Linked DNA regions of Homo sapiens: region 1 is linked to region 2. A link means that fine-mapping ties the variant in region 2 to the expression of a gene that starts in the linked region. Tissue or cell type: sigmoid colon. Region 2 holds a variant in brackets; the other region holds the start of a gene. All regions are shown on one strand. Distances are from middle to middle.

Region 1 (10,685 bases), 67 kb before region 2:
GACCATCCTGGCTAACACGGTGAAATCCCGTCTCTACTAAAAATAGAAAAAATTAGCCGGGAGTGGTGGCGGGCGCCTGTAGTCCCAGCTACTCGGAGGCTGAGGCAGGAGAATGGCGTGAACCCGGGAGGCGGAGCTTGTAGTGAGCCGAGACAGCGCCACTGCAGTCCAGCCTGGGCGAAAGAGACTCCGTCTCAAAAAAAAAAAAAAAAAATCATGTTTACGATTCCTTCTCAACAATGTGCTTCTCGTCTAGAAACACATACATTGTTCAATAGATATTTGTTCAATAATATTTTGTGGGGAAAAAAATCACTAGATTAAGAGCCTCCCCTGAACCTCTCCCAATTTAAAAAAAAAAAAAAAAACTCTCAAAAGCAAGGATATGTATACTTTATTCCCTCGCTCAAAAAATTATGTTCAAATATAATCTCTTTAAAAACTCCCTTATGGGGGAGTCTCTCAAATATCATTCCTCCCCTTGTCTTTCATTCTGCTCCCTATTGCCTATATCCAGTATTTCAGAATATAGGAAGAGGCAGAAGGCAGAGGCTTGCTTTTCACCCGCTTCCTCTGAGACAGCAACACTGTGACCATCTTCCTCAAAGATGCCTGGAGTTCTTCGGGATGTCAGTTCAGGAAAGACACAAAACAGCTCTGTATTGCAGAGACCTCCCTAAAACACCCCCCTCCCATATTGGATAATTTCAACATGGCAAGGACATCCATGTGTGAAGTTCTTATTGGAAACTTTTAACAGATATGGTTTAAATTTTAATACAATGGGCAATGTTTTGTTTTCTGGTGAGACAAATTCTTACAGCTGATTGCATGCAGGAAAAGCTTTATTAAGTCAATAAGCTGTTACACTTTTACAAACTGCTATGCAGAATACTCAAACATTTTTAAATGACATGAGAAACTACTAACATCTTTAGTGAGAGTCACTTTCACAATTTTCTCTGCTCCCACACCCCTAATGATCAACATATTCATTTTTTTATTTAGTATATGTCACGCAGCAATTTATCAAAAGCTTTTGTTGTGAAAACACTTTTCTTAAATACACAATTAAAAGATATGATTAAGCACTTACAGGATGTGAAATATTTAAAGGTAATACACAATAATCGGGTTACCAAAAGGACGCCTTCCAATTTTTCTTTCTATTCATTTTGATGTTTTGTTCTTTTCAAAACATTTTCTCTCATTACATTCATTACTAAAGGCCTTACTTTAAATACATCATGCTACATTTTGTTCTCCTCTTCAAATGCCAATGTTTTAACAATTTGAATTCTCTGGCCTGGGAAAAAGAAAAGTTATCCACTTACAAGGTATACGTATTGACAACATGGATGTTACAGTCCAAACAACAGCACAAAATCAACCATGTACATGTAACATAGTGAAATGAGTCCACGTTTTCTACACGCTACAGGATAGGAAGAGCTGGCTCTTAAGGCCCAGGGCTCACATGATTATGCACTTGTCAAGCAGCTTCTCAGTGGTGTTGGGCATCTGGGATTTCTTCTCGGGCTCCTGGAGGCCGGTGGTGGGCTTTTTCTTGTAATTCAGCAGCATGTGGAACAGCTCCTGCACATTCACATCGGTCTTGGCTGAAATCTCCATGAAGGCGCAATTCCACTCCATCGCACAGGTGGCACCATCATTCAGGGCCACCTCCCGGTGGGTGTCATCACTTTTATTGCCCACCAGCACGATGGGGAACTTATGCAGGTTGTTACCTTTGATCTTGCAGATCAGCTCATAGAAGGCCTTCAGCTCTTCCAGGGTTTCCTTCTTGGTGACTGAGTAGACCAGGACGAAGGCGTGGCCCCGGGCTATAACGTGGCGCTGCAGAGCGCGGTTGCCGTCGCCACTCTTGCTGTCGGTGATGTGCAGGGAAAGCACACCGTGGCTGCAGCCCAGCAACTGGCAGTAGGTATTTTCAATGGTCGGCAGGTACTCATGACGGAAGTTGCCGCTCGCCCACTTGTGCAGCAGCGTACTTTTCCCCACACCAGCGGTGCCGACTACCACGACGCGGTAATCTCTGATCTTCCTGTGGGGCTTGAAGGCGCGGAGGATAAGCAGGGCGGGCAGAAGCCGCAACCGCTTCAGCAGCTTCTGTTCCTTGGAGCCAAAGCTGGCGTTACCCATCGTTGGGATTCGGAGGGGAGATACGTGCACAAGTTCTCCCACACTTAGCTGGCAGCAGGAGACCCCTAGGAAGAAAGTGAGACGGTGAGAGATGGTAGTGGTAACCTACAATGTTGTCAGATCATGTCAGCCTGGCCAGCTGCTCCACTAGGACTCTGAAGAGAGTCCACCCTGTGACGTAAAGGGGTGCACACAGCGAGAAGAAAATTCCCAGGCACACAGTTCAGCCTGCTAGACCGAGGGACCAGCAGGTGATATATATTAAACAGACATGGTGGTTTGCTTTTTACCATCTAGAAAGTGCAGCAATACTACCTTTTGTTTTCTTTCCTTAAACTGTTTTATTAAATTCTCACTACACCCCTACAAGAAACACTCTCATTTCCTCGCTTGTAAAATTAAGATTTTAATTGAAGAGGACTGAACAGTCAAAGAGAAACAGGTGAGGGAATTTTCCCCACTCTATGGGGCTGAATGCCAAGGTGACATTTAGAGTGACACCGCCGCCCTGGTTAAAGCTACAGAGTCATCAGTACAGGAGAAAGGAGGGGGTTTTTGGTATCAGTGGTGTGGGATGTAGAGAGGGGAGGTACCTGCAGTCAGTGCAGCCCCAGAAGAGGCATGGGGAGCACCTTTGCTCTGAGCATGCTGTCACCATGTGCCACCAAGAGCTGAGGGAGGGGTCTTAGTTCATGAATCCTTAGTCACAATGACAGTGGAGTAAAAAAAAAAAAAAAAAAAAAAAAAAAAAAATATATATATATATATATATATATATATATATATGAACCTTTCTCTTCAGGATCTAATCTCTGATTAGAAAAGATTGTAAATATTGAATGAGTTTTTCTACAGAACAGTGGTTTTTCTTTTGCCATGGCTACTACCTTTAACAAAGTACTTTTAATTCAGCCTTATGGAAATAGAGAAAATTTCAGGATTTGAACAGTCAATGAACTTTTTGAGTTCAGGAATAAACATAGTAGATTAGGTTTGTAAGAAACTTTTCTCACAGGTATATCCTAAATACCAGACAGCTGCCCAGGGGGACTGCTTCAGAAGCATCCTAGGTCAGATGGAAAAAGTTCTAGGCACCATGCAGACAGACCACATAGCTGGCCTCTGGACAGAGGTAGGAATAGTACAAGGCAATGTCATTCCTGTGGCACTAGGTATAGAAATTTATACATGTTTCTAGGTGATGATGGTCCTTAAAATGCACTTCTCTTCAGGTACAGCTATGATTGTGTCATGTACAATACCAGAAAGAGAAGAGAGGCTTTTTGTGAATAGCACACTCCCTATATAAACTAGCCTGTCTTGCTGGCTGCGTAGTTGAACACATACTCTCCCAGTACTGGGGAAAAGGACCCTTTTTAGAATGTGCAAGTCCCATGAGAGAGTAATATGTCCATATTAGAGTTTTGGTGGTGGTTTTTTTTTTTTTGTTTTTTTTTTTTGAGTCAGGGTCTTGCTCTGTCCCTCAGGTTGGAGTGCAGTCATGCGATCATGACTCACTGCAGCCTCAACCTCCTGGGATCAATCAATCCTCTCACCTCAGCCTCCCGAGTAGCTGGGACTACAGGCATGTGACACCATGCCCAGCTAATTTTCTTATTTTTTGTAGGGACAGGGTTTTGCTATGTTGTCCAGGCTGGTCTTGAACTCCTGTGTTCAAGTGATCCTCCTGCATCAGCCTCCCAAAGTGTTGGGATTACAGGTGTGACACAACATACCCACCCCATATTAGAGTTTTCATTTGAAAAAAAAAAATGTTGTTGCTGGTTGTTATATCTTCAGACTTAACTTGCTTCTAATTCTAGTCTGGCTTCTTTAAGATAGTGTGATTCTAAGAGTGTTCTAAACTTAAGTGGCAAAATTTAAGTAGATGATTTTATATTCTTGATTAAAGGGGGCCAGGGAGGTTAATACAGTAAATATTTGAAATTGATATAAAATAAATACATACATATATCTAAACCATTCATTTTTGCAGCTTTCAGGTAAAATCTAGCACTTTATTCCAGTCTATGAGATGTGGTTAGTTGATATCATCTAATATTAAGTAATGACATCAGCTATCCAAATCCTGGGCACAATTCCTTTAGCAATGATGACCTTTAATAGAATTTAGCTTAAAAAACTAGGAGATTTCTGCTACAGTGATGCAATCTTTCACATCTTATTTATTAACAAAAATCAACAATCCAGCTTTCCTTAGGTCTTCACGCACTAAGAGTTCTCTAGTCACAGAAATCCTAGCCTTGTCTGCACTCTCCACAACTATTATAAACTCCATGTTAGTATCAAGAGTTCCAGTAAAGACCAAATATCTCTTGGCCACCAACATCCCACATTAGGAAATGTGCATTACTAATTATTCTGTTTTACATTACTTCCTGCTCTAGGGGATGTATGTACAAATTCATTCATAGAAAATTGGTAAAGCAGCCGGGCGCATTGGCTCATGCCTGTAATTCCAGCACTTTGGGAAGTCAAGGTGGGAGGATCGCTTAAGCACAGGAGTTCAAGACTAGCCTGGGTAACATAGGGAGACCGCCGTCTCTATCAAAAAGAAAATAAAAGAAAAAAAATTGGTAAAGGACACACGTGATAACTGAAGTTTCCAGATGTGAAGAGAATTCTCATTCTCAGGCAGTGGACCCCCCCCCCCACTCCCCTCCACACTCCTTCCACCTTCCCAGGCCACCTGGCCTCAGGCTGAGGGGGAGGTGAAAGTTTCCAGGAACCAGAGGGCGTCCAAACCCAGCGGCCGTGCGGAGCTCAAGGTCCCGCCGCTGCTGTTGCGGCACCAGCCTGGCTCATGGACATCACCACGCACCTGCAAGGTCAGGTTTCTCTCTGGTGGCTGTGGCGGCTGCTACCCTCCTCGCCCATTTCAATCTTACTTTCACACTACATGACTCCACTATTACTTCCTGAACACTAGCTACCTACGCAGCTGTAATAGTGGACACTGTGTCAACCTTTAAGCTCGCACACTTATCAAACCTCGTTCTTCTATATTAAAAAGTGCTAGCTTCCCAACGGGACTATCCAAAGTGCAGTTGCAGGACCTGCCAGGAGCCCGCAGGGCTGCGGGTGGTTCTTGCGTAATCGCGCCAAGAAAGACCTGGTTCCAGTTTCAGGGACAACTCGCCCATAAACTTCTACTGCGCAACAGCATCTGCTGCTTTGTCTGACACTTGTTGTTTTCAAGTACCCCTAAAAAAGCGAAAGAAAGACTTACCTTTCTCGGAGGCACGAACCAAGCAGCCTAGAAGACAAATGCGCTGCTCGGAGAGACTGCCGCGGCAACCAACTGGACACCCCAAGAGCTCACTCCTCCGCGGTTTTATATTCCGACTTGCGCACAGGAGCGGGGTGCGGGGGCGCAGGGAGTGTGGGTAACAGGCATAGATTCCGCTTGCGCAATACGTGGTAAGAAACCAGCTGTGAGGGGCTGGCCCAACGCAGAGCGGCGCGAGGTCCGCTTGGCATCTACAACAATCGAGGGGCTAGTCCAGAAGTTCAAGGCGGGGTTACAGGTTGGGGAGGAACTGTTAAACTGTGGACTTTTTCTCACCTGTTGGAATAAGCTTCAGGCAAAACTTTGCCAACAAAAACCGGTCCAACTGATTTTAGACGAAAGTCCAAAAGCAGTTTAATGCAGGACAGATAATCTTTTCCACAAATGATACTGAAAAGACAGGACATCTATAGATTCCCCCCCGCCAAAAATAACCCTTACATAAAAATTAAGTGGCTAGATATAACTGTGACGAGTAAAATTACAAAACGGTTTTAAAAAACAACAAACTATTGTCTAAGGCTAGGCAAAAGGTTCTTAAATTGACATTAGTGGCAAGACCGGTAAAAAGAAATGTTGATGAATTAGACTCCATAAATTTAAAACTTTTGCTTTGTGAAAGACCCTGTAACGATACTGAAAAGGTTTACCTAGGAGAAAATATTTACAAGCCATATATCTGGCATACAACCAGTATCTAGAATATGTAAATAACTCAAAAATCAATTATTTTTAAAAATCCAATTAGAAAATAGTCAGAAGACATAAACAGACACTTCACTGAAGATATGCAGATGGCAAATAACCATATGAAAACCTTTAATGTCATTAGCCATTAGAGAAATGGGAATACGAGGCTTTCGTTGTTCTTCGCCTCCCACTAGGGCGGGTTGAGGGTCTGGCTCCAGTAGCCCCGGGTGCCTCTCACTCCTTGGGCGCAATGCTACTATCCTGGCAGAACCCTCGCCGAACCCTCGCAGGACGCCCCATCGGGTCCGCCAGCGGCTAGGAAGCCCGATTGTGTCGTTCCTTTTTCCCTCTGCGCCTCCCACCGCCAGTCCCTTTTCCAAATGCGCCTGCGTCTGCCCTCCACATCTCCGAGCTCCGTCTGGCTTCTTTCTCCCTTGCCTGTGAGCGCCTGGCGGCGGATGCATTGAAAGCTGCGCACCACCGCCTACCGAGCGTTTTGGGGAGTGTGTGGAAGTTGTTGGCAGCAGGTTTTGACAGCAGTACCCTATGGGCCTAGTCGTTGACGGTAGCACCTGGTTTTGTGTGCCCCAGCCAGCTGAGGCCAGGGTGTGTGGTGTGGGCCACTGGTACTGCTCTTCTGCCACTATAATCCCTCCCCCTACCAGGTACCTGGTGCGTAGAAGTCTAAAGACCTGTGAGGTCTAGCCTGGCGCCTGTAATCCTAGAGAATAAGGAGGTTGAGGCCAGGAGTTAGAGACCAGCCTGGGCAACATGGGGAGAACTTGTCTCTACTTTAAAAAAATTTAGCCCAGTGTGGTGGTGGCCGCCTGTAGTCCCAGCTATTTGGGAGGCTGATGTGGGAGGATCACTTGAGCCTCCCACATCAAGGAGATCGAGGCTGCAGTGAGCCGTGATCACAGCCACTGTACTCCAATCTGAGCAACAAAGTGAGAACCTGTCTCAAAACAAATTCCAACCTGATTCTGGTATAGCATCACATGACAGGTAGCAGCCCTAAGGGCGATCAAAGTATTTTACCCCAAAATATATTTCTGACATATTTTGGAATGGTCCTGTGCAAAGCTATCTTTTGCGAGGGAAATTTGTGTTCTGTGGACAATCTCCTTCCCTTTCCAGGTCTTTCTCTGATCCGGGAGAGATTTAACTAAGAGTCTGACACCGTTTAAGGTCATTTACCTTTTGAGGTACATATGCCATCTATTCTTTCTGAAGCATATTACAGGCTTCACATATGTAACAAGAACCCTGGCTTCCACAACCTCCCTCCTGCCACCACTGGCCAAACCCCTCCTCCTCCAAAATGTACCGGCTTTCCAGGTCAAACCAATGTATACCTTACATATATTGACTGATGTTTTTGCCTGTATCTTCTGTCTTCCTAAAATGTATAAAAGAAAACTATAGTCCAAACACCTTGGACACATGTTCTCAGGACCTCCTGATGCTGTGTCACAGGCCGTGGTCACTCATATTTGGCTCAGAATAAACCTCTAAATATTTTACAGAGTTTGGCTTTTTTCACTGGGTTTCCCCACTCATTTTATTGGCATTAGCTCATACTCTTTCTGTCCAATCATATTTCTACATTGCTGTCTATATTTTATTAATCCTAAGTTAAAAATAGACAATTTCCTCTATATGCTTGGGTCATCATTCTGCAGGCTCCCATGTATACATATTAAATACATTTGTATGCTTTTTCTCCAATTAATCTGCCTTTTGCAGGTTGATTTTTCAGTGAGCCTTCACTGAAGTTTCCCTTTGGTCCCTGCACTGGTAATTAACTCAAACTGTTTTACCAAAATTTGATTCATAGCCTTTATCTCATTTTACCAGAAAAATAATTTGGATCCAACTGTTCTCTATAAACCAGCAAGTTTATATGTTTTACTATCTCACAACTAAAATTCTAAAATAAAAGCTAGAAGACCTTTATGTGTATATTTGTTTAAATATATTTACACATATGTACATGTATTATGTTGTATGTTATGTCTACATAATAAAATTCAGTGTGGTAGGCCAAAAATCCCTTAAGAAATGTTAATCTGATTGGTTTAAATAGATGGGCACTCACACAAAAACATAGTAATTAACCTAATTTTTTTAGTTCATGTAACTTAATCTTTAAAAAAGTAATTGGTTTTAAAATTGTTGATAAAATAAAATTAAAAACGTCTTTCTAATTGTCAATATATATTTTTGCCTGTGTTTACTGGTGTGGGGGCTATGGCTCTCAGCCCCCCAAAGATTTGCTGGAAAATCACTGACATGGGCCACATTGATTAGTAAGAGAAAAGACATACAAATGTATTTAATGTGTATACACAGGAGCTTTCAGAATAAAGACCCAACTTCTCAATGAGTTATAGAAGTTTATACACTAGTCTTGAAATTACAGAAAGAATGGGGGGCTTGGATTCTGGTAAAACAGATTATGGGAGGAGAAGAGGAATTTATTGAGGGGCAATGAATGATTGGTGAGAGAATGATTGGATTGAGCAACAGATATTAACTTGTAAATAGTTTTCTTTGGAATTTAAATAATCCTTGGAGGCAGTCATTGTACTTCTATAAAGGTCTGCTTGGGTGTGGTTACATTTTGGTCTTCTTTTCTTTAACAGATGAGATAACAGGAGGAGGAGAACCAACAATTGCTCTCCTTGGTGGGTCTGGTTGTTAGGCAGATAAAGGAACTTCAGCTTCTTTGGGAAGGATGGTGGGGTTGGAGGAAAAGTCAGAGAGACCTTGAGGCTTCTTTAGTTTAGCGTGTCAAATACCATGTTTTGGCATATCAGTTTCTGAGCACCAGCACTGGTCAGTTTTATATTTGCCTGTGCTATTAAGGTCATGAAGCTATAAACCAGGCCTAAAGCAAAGTGATATATATTTATGCAATTCTTTGATAAATAAGATTAATTTAATATTATTTAACAAAAACAGCTGTGGCTGGGTAGTGACTCCCACCTGCAATGCTAAAACTTGGAGAGGCCAAGGTGGGAGGATCACTTGAGCCCAGGAGTTTGAGATCAGCCTGGGTAACATAACAAGACCCAATCTCCATAAAAAAATTTAAAAATTAGCCAGGCATGTGCCTGTGATCCCAGCTACTCTTAAGGCTGAGGAGGGGGGATCCCTTGAGCCCAGAGTTCAAGGCTAGAGTGAGCTATGATCACACCACTGCACTCTAGCCTGGGCAACAGAGTGAGCCTTTGCCTGTAAGGAAAAAAACAAAAGTTGTATTTTCTGAGTTATCTACAGATACCCATGTATTTAACTTTATGGCTCTTATGTGGGTAAACACCTCATGTTAACAGGCTATATAATTATTTAATTTAAAAAAACTTGAAATAATGACCAGCTCCATCTAATATCTCAATTTTTGTAAGAAATATAGGTATAATTGTTAAAAAATAAATTAACTGTAAATGAAATAAATGTTTATAAATGAACTCATGTAATTTAAAGTCTTAAAATTTTATGTTAAATCATATATACAAAATAAATGTCTGTATCATAGTCAGATAAGATAAAATGATTGGTTATCCCACATTTTTAAAAAAAGAAAAATTATAGGACTAAGAGGTAGGGGTTAGGAAAATAAAAGGTCTAAAGTTGAAGAGGACTAATAAAGGATGAGCTAATAAAAGAAGTTTTATGTGTTATTGACTTGGCTGGAATTAAAAACAAATTGTTTGTGTGTTTTTCTAAAAATTAAACGTTCTCAGGTAGGGGACCAGGGGACAGGCACTGATACAGAACCAGAGTCTGGTTCCTTATATTTAAAACAACAAGATTTCTTGAAGTATTATCTGATTTTAATAAAATTTTAAGGGGTTTTGATTTTTAAATTTATACTCTGTTTTTAAACAGGTATCTTCTCCTTGACATCTATTTAATTTTCCTAGTTTTGGGTTAAAAATGTTGTCTTCTTGATTTAAAGTGGTAATTTCATTCCTTGAGGTACAGTTGTTTTTTTTTTTTTATTTCTCAAATTCATATTGCAGAAGTTCATCTTTTACAGTTTCTTGCTGTACATGATTTGCAGGTCAATATGTCATTTCCTTCATTTTTTTCTCCCCTGGAGAAGGCCTGAGATGATCATTCTCCTCTTTGGCTTTTTTTGGTTCTAACATTGCTGTTTTGGCCTGACATTAGAATATTTATCTTGAAGGCGTAGAAAAGCAGCGTTTTTCTCCAGTATAACTTAATTTTGTGCTCTTGGCTTTTCTTGATATGTCTGAATTTTTCCATATAACCAGAAAAGTTACTGTGGTAAGTAACAGCATGCTGTTACTAAGAACCATGTAGTTCCCTGCTCAAGGTACTAGTTTTCTTGTTTATATTCCTCTATAATATAGTGTATACTTATAACCTTGGACATATTCTTCCTGTGTTTCATGACATTCAAGTTCCCTTTTCATCAGGTTCAACTTCCACGTTATCTGAATGAGCTTCCCATAATGAAAAACAATCACACCGAAGAGGGCTTTCTTTACGT
Region 2 (8,000 bases):
TCTCAGGCCCTTCCCAAGCCCTTCTGAGTAAGAAACTGCACTTTACAATATGCTCCCAGGTGAACTGTCCGCAGGGAAAGGCTTGAAAAGCCTTGCTACAGGACAGCAAATCCCACAAGCTGTCCTACAGTGAAAGGGAGCAGAACGATAATGTGCATTTGAGAAAGAGTACATCCCATGCCTCAGATTTAGAAAGGTGGCGTGTTCAAGACTGAGATCTCCTCAGAAAGAAACATGCTTAAAAATCCAATGCTACTCAACTGTATTTGATGGCTCAACAACAAATCACCGACTGTAATCACTCAACAGAACCAGCATCCTGTGAAACACACCTTGAGAAACCAGTAGTGGACCTTCTGGCATTCCCGGATTCAACTTTCTTGGCTTCAATGACTGCAGATGGAGTGAGCCCATGGGGTGATAACTGGCAGTTTTGCTGAGGAACAAATCTGAATCATGCCTACTGCCAGGCTGAGGCTCTGGGCCAAGGTCTCAGCTTGGGATAGGGTGAGGATCAGAAGGCTGGAAAGATAGAGGGACTCGGAGACTGCCAGCTACTGGTTAACTTGTGGCATAAGGAGGATATATACAGAAAACACTGGATTCTATAGCTGAAATATGTCATTTGGAGAAATTTAGGAGCCAATATAAGCATTCCTTATTTGTCATTTCATGGGCTATATATATTCCACAGGTGTCAAGAATCTATAATGATGATGATGATGGCAAAGACAATGATAGATACCTTTTTAAAACTTACTATATGCCAAGCACTGTCCTAATTCATATGTTCCCAACAGCAATGCTAAGTGGTATAATCCTCATTTCTGCAGATGAAGAAATTGAGGCACAGAGCTGGCTCCTCGTTTTAATCCGTTTCATGCTAAATGTGACTTCTGAGACCTAGGTGACAGGCATCTGACTGGTGCAGACTAAACTGGCCAGATGATGGAGTGACCACTGGTCCCCTTTATCCCTCGAGCCAGCCCCTGAAGGCTGAGAGACTTGCTCAGAGCCCCGTCCCAGAAGTGGGCAAGATTCATATTTGTGCCTTAGCAAAACTGCCAGTTATCATACTATGGGCTTATTCCTTCTGGAATAGGGTAAAGCAAGAACAGAGAACCCCCTCTGGGGGTGCCACTTAGGTGTGAAGCAGCCCTAATTGGGCAGGTATAGGCTGGAGTGACCTCAGTGGTAGGCCTGGGAGGGGACACCTGGTTTGCTCTGGGGCAGTCGTAGAAGGCTCAGCACAGTGCTGGACTGCAGGTAGGACTAAGCTTGGATTATAAGGCCTGGGATCTTCTCATAATGCTGGTCTGCAGCCACTGTGTGGCCTGTGACAGGCCTTTCCCTGGGTCTCAGTCTTTGAAAATAATGATACACCCCCCACCACACCCGGTCATGGGTTGCACCTTGGGTTTCAACTCAATGACTGCTTTTCAGGAGGTCCCTCTGGGGCTCCTTAGGGTTATGGCTGCTCCAGGCTGGCAAATCCAGATCATGCAAGAGGTGGCTTAACCCTCTCCCTCTCAGGGACACGAAGAAGATCTGTTGCTTCCAGATTGCACCAACACACATGCCTAGAACCCCAGTAATGAAGCTGGAACCTCTGCTGTGTGGTCAGACAAACCCAAGGATAAATTGCCCCTGCTTCTTGGGATGACACTAGGAATTCGCCATTCTTCACGAGGCAGTCCCTGGGGCCTAGAGCCAATTCATTCAGTTTAACATTCCCTCCCTTTGAGACAAAGTATAGGGTGGTGATAATGAAGTCAGTCGGGCACAGCCTTGAGTGCTGGCTGTGTGACACAGGGCAAGTCACTCAACCTCTCTGAGCTCCAGCATGCTCATTGGTAATTGGTATAAATGAAAGTACCTATATCATGGGACTACTGTGAGGTGCCAGCACATTATCAGTGCTTTGTAAAGAGCCGCTATTACTCTTGTTGTTGCTTGGACATTTGTTATGAGGGGGGAATACTTTTTAAAATTTGCTTTTTAAAAACATCAACAAATTTCTGAAGGCATTTTCAAATGAGACTTTAAAATATGTTTTTCTCTTCTTATAAAGTTAAAATTTTTGTATGAGGTTAGGCATAATTTTTTTTTGTTTTAAATTAACAAATAGCAATCAAGGGCTTCTAAGCAATTCCAAGGACCCCCTTGCTGCTCTATTCCACTAGTCTTCCACCCTCTCCCTCCTGGCAGCAGTCGTTGGCATTTTTGTATGTCTCACCCTGGAGGCTGGCAAGCTCTGCACCTCCTGGTCGGGAGCTTCCAGCTCTCCCCTGCAGCTGTCCTGAATTCCTCTTGCTGTAGGTTGTCCCTTTGTCCCAGAGCACTCACCCTAACAGGGAAGTCCCTCATTTCTTCATTAACTTCCAGGTTGCTCCCTCCCCATTAATGCTGAGCTGGAGAAGCAGGGTTCACAGGACCTTACAATAGGGACCAGGAGCAGCAGCTCGGAGATTCAGGCCGCCTTTGGCTTCCTTGACCCTCCTGTACCCAGGGCCAGCATCAGGGAGGGAGGAAGAGGACAGGGACAACAATCAGCAGGGCCCGTGTAAGCATACACTTCTTATGGATGACTCCTCTGACAACCACACGGGGTAAGGCCAGGCTCACGGTCACACAGTGGCTGAGCCAGAAGATCAGTGTTTTTGCTTTTCCATCTAATAATGGCTCCGTCTATACAAAATTTTGGGCAGGAAGGGCAATGCATCTATCAGAACTCATTGGTGACAGGCGCAGCAGGAGCTAAATTGGCTGAGTTGAACCAGGCTGTTACTTCCTAGCTGTGTGACCTTAGGGAAATCACCCAAGCTCTCTGTGCCAACAATTGTGCCTACCTCATAGGATTCATTTAAGGATTAAAGAAGTTGATAAATATCAAGTGATTAAAATCCTACCTGGCACATCCATAGCAGGGATTCTACATGCTAGATATTTTAATTGTTGTTAAGCCTCATGAAGGCAGGAGTCTTTGTCTATGTTGGTTATTGGTCTGTGTTAGAACAGTGCCTGGTACTTAATAGGGGCTCTATAAACAGTTGTTGGGTGAATGAATCTATTTCTTTCAAGATAAAAACTCTTTTGCAATGCAGCCATTGTTTATCTTGGCCAGCAGAGGGCAGCAAATAGCTGTGGACTGATTAATTGTGGACAAGGGTGGTTTTAATTTTGAAGGCTAACAGAACTGTCCCTCCTGAGCCAGTTAGGGAAATAAAAGGTTGCCATGAACCTGTACGACTGGCCCCGACCCCTCCCACTCACCTTTGTGCAGGTTAGAATGATTGTCAGGCATTCAACTCACAAAAAATCTTGGTTCCATTTCTTCTCAACTTACTTTCAATTTCCTTCCTCCCTCCCTCCCTCTATCCCTGCTTTTCCTCCTTTCTCCGTTTTCTCTAATCATATTTCCCCCTGCCCCCACACTCACTCCTCTGCATCAAGCTAGTATACTGTACACACTCCCAAACTTTATCTGTACAATTGCAGCTTGTACTGCAAACCATGACATCTAGAGTGGATCCTTATACAGTATTCTTCCCAACCAATGAATGCTGCTAAACCTAGTATAATTTTTTAAACAACATGTAATTTGATAACTAGACCCAGAGAGGTACTATAGCTTGGCCAAGAACACACAGCAATTAGGGGTAACGTTAGAGCCCTAGCCAAGGCCTTCTGCTGTCCATTATACAGCCTCATCACACATGTTCTCTTTTGCCAACAGGAGGCTCGTGTGGTCCCTGTTTGTCATCCAGTCAATACGGCCATCAGCTTCTGGCCCCAGACACCTTTCCTCTGCACTGTGGCACAGAGGAGCAGACTGCTTTGGAGGGCAGCTTCCTGGGAGCTCCAGGGACCCTGGCCAGGCGGCCACTG[C/A]CACTGACTTCCTCGGCTCACTGAGCCCGTGCCTGCAGCTCTCGTGTTTCCTCTGTGCTGCAGTGGACGCTTATCTTCCCCCGATGGCACATTTCTTTGTCACAGACAGGACCCTCACTGGCAGTCGGAGGTGAGTTCCCGGGGAGCTTCTGGGTCTTGTTGGTGCCTTCTGGCACCACTTGTGGATGGGATGGCTCTGACACCCAAGCCTCACCACTGCTCCGGGGGTAACCCAATGACATGATCTCCCCAGCTTGCTAGATCCTGTCCTTCCCAATTATGATCCAAAAAATCATGCTAGGATAACTGTCTGGAAAAAATATTTAATTGGTCTTCCAGCTGGGAAACAAATTCTATATGAATTGATGAGAAAAAAAAAACAGAATTTTTAAAACTAGAAAAAATGTGGGTGACCTATTATCTTAGGGGATATTTCTTTAAGCATGAAAGCAAAACTAGAAACTATAAAAGAAAAAATGTACAGGTTGACTACATAGAAAAAAGCTCTATATCCTGGTAAACATCCAAATCAAAATAAAAGCTAGTGACAAATGGAGAAAAGTTGAGCTACCCGTGTAACAGACAAAAGATAAATATACTAAATCAGACTCTCAAGAAAATGGATAAAGAATCTGAACTGACAACCTAAAAATATCAAGTCATAGGAACATGAAACATGCTCAGTGTTACTGGTAATGAAGTAAATGCAAAATTCAATTTCTGCATCTTGAAGTTGCAAATTTCAAAACTACGTAGTGTCAGTGAGGATGCGGGCCACAGCCTCTCTCATTCTGCTGTTGGCACAGTTCTGGAGGGCTCTGTATGCTTACAGGTGTCCATGATAAATGCTTTTCTGTGTAGCCTTCATCGCTATCACCTTACTATCTATTGCCTCCTCCCTCCCGCCTTCCTTTACCACACCAATATACTTCACAATGATAGGGATATTGTTTACTGATCTGCCCCAAATGCTTACAATAGCACCTGGCCCGGCTGGTTGTGGTGGCTCACGCCTGTAATCCCAACACTTTGGGAAGCCAAGACGGGCAAATCACAAGGTCAGGAGTTCGAGACCAGCCTGGCCAACATGGTGAAACCCCATCTCTACTAAAAATACAAAAAATTAGCTGGGCGTGGTGGCAGATGCCTGTAATCCCAGGCTACTCAGGAGGCTAAGGCAGGAGAATCACTTTGAACCCAGGAGGTGGAGATTGTAGTGAGCCGAGATCACGCCACTGCATTCCAGCCTGGGTGACGAGCAAGACTCTGTCTCAAAAAAAAAAAAAAAAAAAAAAAAAAAGCACCTGGCCCAATATTAGATGTTCAACATATGCTTATTGAATGAATAATTGATCTTTAACCCAGTAGTTCTTAGGAATTGATACTAAGGCAACAATCAGTGATGTACAAAAAAGATTTATATCCAAGGATGCTCATTTCAACATATATTGTAATAGTCAAACTTTGCAAACCACTGAAATGTCCAGTAAAAATTATGAACCATCCTTTTTAGAGACTATAATAGTAAAGTCATGAAAATCATGTTATAGAAGACAACACAATAACATAGAAAGATTTCCTAGATATATTTTGAAAAGGGCAGGTTATATAACTGTCCAGAAATTTATTTTCTATGTATAATACAATCTTAATGTATATAAATCTACACATATATGCATGGAAAAACTTGTGTAAGAACATACTGACATTTTAACAGTATTTATCTTTGGATAGAGTAATTGTAAAATGTTTACATGTTTTTCTTTACTCTTTCATGTATTTTTGCAGAGTTTCTGTGATAGGACCATTTTGTTTTTGAGACTGGATTAAAAACAATGTAGCAGAGGCCATGGGTGCCTCACCCATATTCCTCAAGCTGGCCCTAGTTCCAAGTAGCTAAGAGCCTGGCGGTGGCCCTCTACCTACAAAGGATGGGAGTGGAGTGGCTCTCTCTCACAGCTTCCTCAGCCCCAGGGGACAACTCTGCAGCATGTTCCTCACAGCTTGACAGAGGCCCTGGCCGTGCACCTTGGTGGCTGTTCTTTGCATTCCCTTCTTCTCAGCCTTGCTTCTCCATGCCACCTCAGTGCTTCCTGGAATCACCTTTCAAGCCAGCTACTTGCACACAAATCCTTGTCCCAGAGTCTGCTTTTAGGAGGAGCCCAGGCTAAAAGGCACAAACGCTGTTTTAAAAATCCTGCCCACTCCGTGTAAAGAACATCAGCCAAGCATGGTGCTATAGAAATAACTCCTATCTTGGCTGTTCCTGTGTGTAGTTCACTTTCAATCTCTCAGCATCCCTGAGTTGAAGAGAGATCTTGCTTAACTGGGAGGGAAGGCCAAGGGGTTTCTGGATACAGGAGCCACCTTGGGGATCTTAGAGCCTCAGAAGAGGCAAGGATGTACGTTATAAGAAGGGGCTGTCCAGATGATAAATGAAATTAATAAACCACCCCTGTGATGCCAGCACATGGCTCACAGCAGATCTGCATCAGGCGCCTACCATTGCCCTAGGATGCCATTAACACCTACTCTTCCTTATGAGGCTTAGAATCAGGGCTGCTGAGGACTTCAGAAATCATCTCATTCAGGTGGGGTGAAGGGGGTGGGTAGCTTCCCTGAGGGTCCCACAGCAAGAGTTAGAGACACAGCCAGGACCAGAACTTACTGAAAAGCAATAATCCAAGGTCTGACTTGGGTTCTGAGGATTTGCTCAGTTATAGATGTCATTCTCGATTTGGCCTGAAGAGGGCAGACACTTGCCATTCATGGAGGTGAAGAGCTTGTTTTTAAGGCTGGACTAACATCTCCCAATAAGGTCATTTGGTTCTAGTGAGAGTTGCAGCTCACAACATTCTTGACTCTTCTGCTGCAAATATGCTACTGGAAAGACACTGAAGTTCACAGACTGAAGTTCCTTTAGTTCCAACTCTGGCACTGTAATAGGTGACCTTGCACAGGTCACTTCACCTCTCTGAGTCTCACTTCTTGTGAAGTAAGATCTCTACTCCGTGACTGAGAAGGTGGTATTGGGGAGTGATATGTAACTTACAAAGTTGCATATTACAACACACATCACTGCTGTTAAGTTCTGTGTGTGTGTGTGTGTGTGTGTGCGCGCGCGCACATGTGCACACTCGTGATGGAGAGAGCTTGATAAAGGAGAGAGGCCTAGGCCAAAGGAGCTTTTTCTGGCCTCAGGTGAATATATATTTGTAAATTCTCTAGCAATTGGAACCAATTCACTTTGTACTTGGAAAAGACTTAACTGCTTTTACTTTATATTTCGAACTGTACTTTTTTAAAAGCTAAAGATGTCCCTTAACCTAACTGGTGTATGGGAAAAAATATACATAACAGGGATATATGTAAAGTTCTACCATTAAGTCAAAAATATTGCTGAATACAGAGAAGGTATTGGTAATACAAATTTTTAAAACTAAGTATTTAGTGGTTGCTTGGTCATGAGAAGCAAAAAAGTAAGAAGTGAGTATTTTTAAAAATCCTGTACCATTTTCCTAGGACATCAAGCCCTAGTACAGGAAGGGACATTTTCACACTAATCTGTGCCAGCTGGAGCAGTCCTGCCATCTGAACATCATATTTTGGAACCCTGAGAAGCTAGGATGCAGTTAACAGGTAAGTAGTAATGGGAGAACTTTCTAGAAACCATGTCTGGAGGAGGGGTTCAGGAGCTGAGATGCTGAGCCTGGGGTAGGGAAGACTTGAGTGGGGCAGGCCCTACAAAAAGGGGTTCCATCAATCCAAATAAGGAAAAGTCACAAAGGAAAGGTCTGGTCTCAATAGTGAAGGGCATTGTTCCCTGAGAGATCAGTGTGTTGTCACAGGAGACAGGAAGCTCTGAACACTTCAAGACATGCTTAGAAGGCCCCCCGATGTCAGCAGAAAAGGGGCTGCTAATGTCATCTCAGAAACCAAGTTATCCCCATGCAACAAAATCAATCACGTATCAAAACATGATGGAGAGACAGCCTGCAGAAGTCAGATGGTTCCCGGAGCACTACAGGATAAAAAGGACCTTGAAATACAGAAGACAAAGTACAGGCTCATGAATGTCTGGACACACCAGCAAATTGAGCCTGACCAACTGC

Alleles and levels. Alleles are on the strand shown, and positions count from the first base shown. SD is a standard deviation of normalised expression in the study named.
For the expression in sigmoid colon of the gene that starts at base 5,493 in region 1, allele A in region 2 goes with a higher level than allele C (moderate effect, 0.56 SD a copy in GTEx).

Evidence for each region.
Region 1: DIRAS3 starts here. The variant in region 2 is fine-mapped to the expression of DIRAS3 in sigmoid colon (GTEx, PIP 0.91).

The regions. Positions count from the first base shown.
Region 1 is chr1:68,045,135-68,055,819 of GRCh38, forward strand. It overlaps DIRAS3 (DIRAS family GTPase 3), which reads right to left and starts at 5,493. Exons shown (of 2, transcript NM_004675.5): 1 at 5,414-5,493; 2 at 828-2,228. The coding sequence starts at 2,163. The coding sequence ends at 1,474. The region is part of intron 2 of GNG12-AS1 (GNG12, DIRAS3 and WLS antisense RNA 1); the gene reads left to right. It also overlaps the pseudogene ARL5AP3.
Region 2 is chr1:68,113,715-68,121,714 of GRCh38, forward strand. It overlaps GNG12-AS1 (GNG12, DIRAS3 and WLS antisense RNA 1), which reads left to right. Exons shown (of 10, transcript NR_040077.1): 7 at 3,737-4,018; 8 at 7,411-7,527. It also overlaps a transcript of WLS not described here. Among named protein-coding and RNA genes, the nearest start is that of MIR1262, 66 kb to the right of the region's middle. RefSeq lists a silencer at 2,952-3,246. The variant C/A (reference allele first, on the strand shown) is at 3,889.